Regions from separate parts of the Homo sapiens genome. Here region 1 is linked to region 2. Evidence: fine-mapped expression QTL. A gene starts in region 2. The other region holds a variant in brackets. All regions are shown on one strand. Distances are between the middles of the regions.

Evidence for each region. PIP is the estimated chance that this variant, and not a neighbour inherited with it, causes the effect.
Region 1: its variant is the best candidate, but not a certain one, in a credible set for the expression of ABT1 in fibroblasts (GTEx, PIP 0.72).

The regions. Positions count from the first base shown.
Region 1 is chr6:26,838,896-26,841,818 of GRCh38, reverse strand. The region is part of intron 1 of LOC124901290 (a long non-coding RNA gene); the gene reads left to right. Among named protein-coding and RNA genes, the nearest start is that of TRA-AGC14-2, 12 kb to the right of the region's middle. The variant A/G (reference allele first, on the strand shown) is at 1,391.
Region 2 is chr6:26,595,407-26,598,329 of GRCh38, reverse strand. It overlaps ABT1 (activator of basal transcription 1), which reads right to left and starts at 1,377. Exons shown (of 3, transcript NM_013375.4): 1 at 1,107-1,377; 2 at 220-416; 3 at 1-65. The coding sequence starts at 1,347. RefSeq lists enhancers at 1,089-1,528, 2,086-2,245, 2,346-2,495.

The DNA.
Region 1 (2,923 bases), 240 kb before region 2:
ACATTCTGGAATCTGATGCTCTATATGTCTAATGTGTTAGAAGCTCCATTAGGATGTAACAAGATTTTAGCCACATTCCCCGCAGCACTTTGGAGTACTGCTGCTTCATGAGATTTTTCTCTAAAGTAACCTTTCAAAGTCAGCCACAAAACCTCTTATTCTAGATCATACTGGCATCTGACCTTTGTAAACTTACAAGAAAAAATAGGAAAAAGGAAGATGCTAAGGGAGACACAGTTATCTTTTTCAAAATGCAGCTAAACCCACAAGCTACAGAGATATCATGACCTATAAAGTTCAGAGCTGTGTTTTTTTTTTTTTTGTATTTTTGTATTATACTTTAAGTTTTAGGGTACATGTGCACATTGTGCAGGTTAGTTACATATGTATACATGTGCCATGCTGGTGCGCTGCACCCACTAACTCGTCATCTAGCATTAGGTATATCTCCCAATGCTATCCCTCCCCCCTCCCCCCACCCCACCACAGTCCCCAGAGTGTGATATTCCCCTTCCTGTGTCCATGTGATCTCATTGTTCAGTTCCCACCTATGAGTGAGAATATGCGGTGTTTGGTTTTTTGTTCTTGCGATAGTTTACTGAGAATGATGATTTCCAATTTCATCCATGTCCTTACAAAGGACATGAACTCATCATTTTTTATGGCTGCATAGTATTCCATGGTGTATATGTGCCACATTTTCTTAATCCAGTCTATCACTGTTGGACATGTGGGTTGGTTCCAAGTCTTTGCTATTGTGAATAATGCCGCAATAAACATACGTGTGCATGTGTCTTTATAGCAGCATGATTTATAGTCATTTCTTTCTAACAATTACCCACAGCTATTATGATTTGCTCCCATCACTAAAACTGTCATTGCTAAGATAATTGCTCCAGTTTGAGAAGGTAGAAGATTTAACAAGTAACTAATATGTAAAGGATAGAGAGAAGAAGGGGAGAGGTTGATATGATCCCTGTCCTTTCACACTGTTAATATGCCAGGTGATAAAATGTCTCATTCACTCTGAAACATTATCACTATACAGGCACTCCTTACAGTGTTTGTTCTCATATATGTCCTCGTATTTTTTTTTTCTTTTAAAGTGGCTCTGAGAAATGGCTAATGCACAATCTAATTATGTGATAATAAATGTTAATGACAGTATTATCAGATGATAACTAGGCTTCATTAATGTGTCTCATTATGATTCTCAGTCCCTTGTGGAAGATTGTGAAGAAAGCACCTTAGATATTCCAGATTATATTTGAATGTAGTAGTTACAGAGCCCATATCCAGGGAGAAAGGAAGATATCAGAGACACCTTTAAGCTCTTTCTCTAATTTTGCTTCTTCAAACCTAAGCATCCATCAATCACATCTCAAAATTT[A/G]TCATATACCTTCAGCATAATAAAAATAGTAATTATAATAATAGTAATAGTCCTGATATGACAAATAATATGTAAGATCATTTTAGTTGTAACTGCTGATATATTTTGGTATAAGTATGCAGGCATTTATGTCCCAAACATTATGACCTTGATTATCCATAAGCAAGTTCAAATCATTTAGAGAGGATACACTTATTTAAAGGTTTGCACCTGTTAAATTTTGGTTCTGCTACACTATATATATATATATATATATATATATTTTGTTGTTGTTGTTGTTGTTGTTGTTGTTGTTGAAATGGAGTCTCCCTCTGTTGCCCAGGCTGGAGTGCAGTGGCACAATCTCAGCTCACCGTAACCTCCGCCTCCTGGGTTCAAGTGATTGTCCTGCCTCAGCCTCTCAAGTAGCTTGGATTACAGGCATCTGTCAACACGCCCAACTAATTTTGTATTTTTAGTAGAGACAGGTTTCTCCATGTTGGTCAGGCTGGTCTTAAACTCCCGACCTCAGGTGATCCACCCACCTCAGCCTCCCAAAGTGCTGGGATTACAGGCATGAGCCACTGCACCCAGCCAGCTACACTATTCTTAATATTCAAAGTAGCACTGTCAAGTTATCACCAAGATTTCATCACAATTTTTATTATTTTTCTATATTTACCCTCTATTTTAACTATGTAAATTTATCAAATGTTTTAATATTTGAGAGGGCAAATCTACTATCACCGTTATTTAATGTTTTGTATTTTTTCTTAATTATTATATTTTTTAAATTGACGTGATAATTGTACATATTTATGGGGTATGTAGTGATATTTCGATACATACAATGAATAGTTAACAGATTCGTGTAATTCACATATCCATCATGTCAAAATTTATTATTTCTTTGTGATGGGAACATTCAGTTTACCCCTTCTAGCAATTTGAAACTATATATTATTGTCAACTACGGTCATCCCACAATGCTATAGAACACTAGAACTTATTTGTCTCTAGCTTTAATTTTGTATCCCTTGACAAATCTTTCTTTATCCTTCTCTCATCCCACCCTTCCCTGTCTCTAGTATATTCCATTCTACTTTTTCCTCCTCTGAGATCAACTTTTTTTTAGTTTCCACATATGAGTGAGAACATGCAGTGTTTAACTTTCTGTTCTTACCTTATTTTACGTAACATAATGTCCTCTTGATTTGTCGAGGCTGCTTCTTATAGTTTCTATTAGAAATATGTGTGTGTGCGCCTGTGTGTGTATAATGTAGGATATTTTAGGTAACTAAATAGTTGTAAATAAGGCTGAACTGTATTTTTAAGGTTTTATTTGTGACTAATAATTTGTCTTATTAATAAAGCCTAGGTTAAAAAAATAAGTGGAAGACATATCTGTCACACACTATATCTTGGGAGTTTTGAAAAATAAAGTGTTGATTTCAGGCAAAATACTTAGTTCAACTGTAACTAAATCAGCAAAGATGTCATGATTCCATAAGGGATCCACTCTAAATATAATGTTAAATGGAATATTTCATTATA
Region 2 (2,923 bases):
CTGCGCACCTGGCGCTCAAAGGCGAGGTGCTCGCTGAGGTGGGACCAGGTGAAACGGTGCAAGTACTGTGGGCAGAAAAGAAGAAAAGATCAGGATAGTGCAGATTAGGGAGAAAGATGAGACAAGGGGACAAGGCCAATGAGAGGCCATGGGGATACTTGGGCCAGAGTTGGGGAGAAGGGAGGGTGAGAGGTGTGGCAGAAAGATCTATCTTCTCACCTTGAGGTTCCAAAGATCATAACGGAAGGGGCTGCGCCTGCGGGCACCCATAGGCGTGTTGTGTAGACTGGCCGCCACGCGCTTGGCTATGCGCTTGTCACGGAACTCCACCCATCCCTCGGTGTAGTCCTTGGTGTAGGACCGCTTTTTTCCTCCGGCAGCTGCTGCTGCCTTCTTCTTGCGTCTCACGAACCGGTCTGCGCGCCAAAGACAAAGACCCGTCCAGGACGCCTATGCAGCACTCACTCAAAAGCACCTCCCACTGCCCGCAACGTTCTTCACATCTGCCAGTGGGAGTCCCACCTGAAGAGTTTTTGCCCAGGAGGAAGGGAACTGTAAATCGCACCCTTTCCTCTAGCTAACTCAATTCTTTCCTTAATTGTCCACTCCTTAATCTGGCCAGCCCTGAACGCTGCTTAAAACCGGCACAAGTCCTCAGCCTCAATGTAAAATTGAGGGTGGAAAGAAGAGGGGCGGTTGATCAAATAGTTTCTTGACCTAGGCAGCAATGCTAAAGAGTTATGTTCAGTTTTGTAGAAAAGCTGACGAGACTTTTACTCAGGTTGTATTCATGTAACAAACCAGTAAACAGGTCCGGAAAGAGAGGTGAACAGAGCCGGGATAAGAACACAAATAGTAACAATCCGAGAACTAAAGAACCACCAGACACACTGCGCTACCCACTCTCCCCATATCCCCTCCGCCCGCCCACCCCAGCATCCTCACAGACTGATTCACCAGCCAGGAGCCAAGCACCGCACTCCCCACCCCCAAAATCCAGCAACTCGTGCCTCAGCCTCGCGCAGCGAAGCAACAGGACATGCATGCTTGCACCCCGCCAGCGAGCGACAACCTCCTCCTGTCACCGTCAGGGCCTGCATACTTACCCTCAGCCTGAAAGAAGACGCGTCCGACCTCGCCATAGGCGCTGAGAAGGTTGCGGACGTGCAGGGGCCGGAAGCGCGGCGGGATATGGCCCAGGTACACAATACCTGGCACTACCCGTTTCTTGCTGCCACAGGCCGCTTCTTCGGATTCCTCCTGCTCCTCCTCCGCATCTAGTGTCTGTTCTGTCCCTTCCAGCGGCTCTTGCTCCGTTGCGGCCTTCTCCGATTCCTCTGCCTCCATGTTGACTGACACGAGCGGCACGACGGCCGTAAAGTGCCTTGCCAACTGACGCAAAACGCGTGCGACGGCCTGAGACGAGGGGGCGGGTCCAAGGTGGTGATGACAAATGAAAGGAAATGATTGGGCAATACAGTCGGGTCCAGGGGAAGGCCGAGGGGAGAGGGAGGAAGTGGTGTGTCAGGTCGGAAGCCTGATTCAGAGCGTGGAAGCGGGATGGGAAACTTGGGTTAGGCTCAGATTCCCGGTCAGATCTCCAACTCAGGACAGGCAGAACCAGAAAAGGCAGATCCCCAAATATAACCTACCCTATAGAACGCCTTGTCGAGACGCTAAAAGGCGGGTTGATGCCGGCTTTTTAGGGAATTTTGCAGAACAATTTTAGAGAAGTTTCTATGTGTTCTAGCGATCAAAATAGCATTTTATTCAAGGGCCCCGGGTGCGATTCCAGCTGAGGAATGACTCACCTTTTAAAGTTTATAAATTTCATTTAAAAATTTTGAGTTTTGAGGTTTTAACTATTTCTGGAAATTTACCTCGGAATTTTGAATATTTTAAAATTTAATTTTGAAAACAGTTCAACTTTGGAAATTTAATTAGATTTAATTTTTGAAAATTTAAGTTGTGAACTTTCAGTTTAATATTTTACATTTGATTTTGTGAATGTCTGAAAATTTAAATGTGTGACAATTATTTGAAGAATTTGTTTGGCATCTATTACACGTGTGTATTGATACATTATCCATATGCATACTTATGTTGCAAATACTTGTCAGAGGCGCACAAGCCTCCAATTCTGGCGACCCCCCGGCGGCGCGCTTATTTCTGCTCTCCCTGGGTCTGTCCTCAGATTCCCTATCAGATCACAAACCACTTTTCCTTCTATGACCTACGCAACCGCAGAACGGACCGGGCCACGGCGGTCCTGCTCCCACCAGGCGGCCTGCGGACCATCCCTAAGCCAAGCTCAGGGCAGTTTTCCCCGCGCGGGCTCGGGTCCTCAGTCTCTTATCGTCGCCCGAGGGCGCGACCAGCAGGGGGCGCCGTCCCCACCCTTGAGGCGTTTCAGTTCTTCCCATCGGCGCCAGCGACAAGCTGACTGCAAAGGACAGTGCTGGGAACCGCGTACAAGTAATCCGGTTAGCTTTCTGGAAGCAGCCCGGGGCGAGTTTGATGACTATCAACATAAATCCGTCCTTGCTGCGGCCTGACAAAATTTCCCATCTCGCTCCAAGAGCGCAGAGTAGCCCAGAGAATGGAAGCAGGGAGTAAATGTGTCCACTATTAAAATCAGAGATGACAGTTTTTGCCAGTCCCCAAGTATATTTCTAAAGTAACAGGGCCCTGCACTCTTTCATGGAGTGTCTAAAAGTCTAATAATAGACTTCTCGAATTCAAACACGCCTGTTTCATTAACTTTATTGAAGAGAACTTTCTGTCAGGTAGGTGTCCACTGCTCCTTTTTTGAAGAGGAGCGGGGTACGATGAGAGCGATAAACTCCGTCTACTGCTATTTAATTATAAACACTGACATCTTCAAAACACAGTACAGTTAATGAAATGAGAACACGTGTTGGGG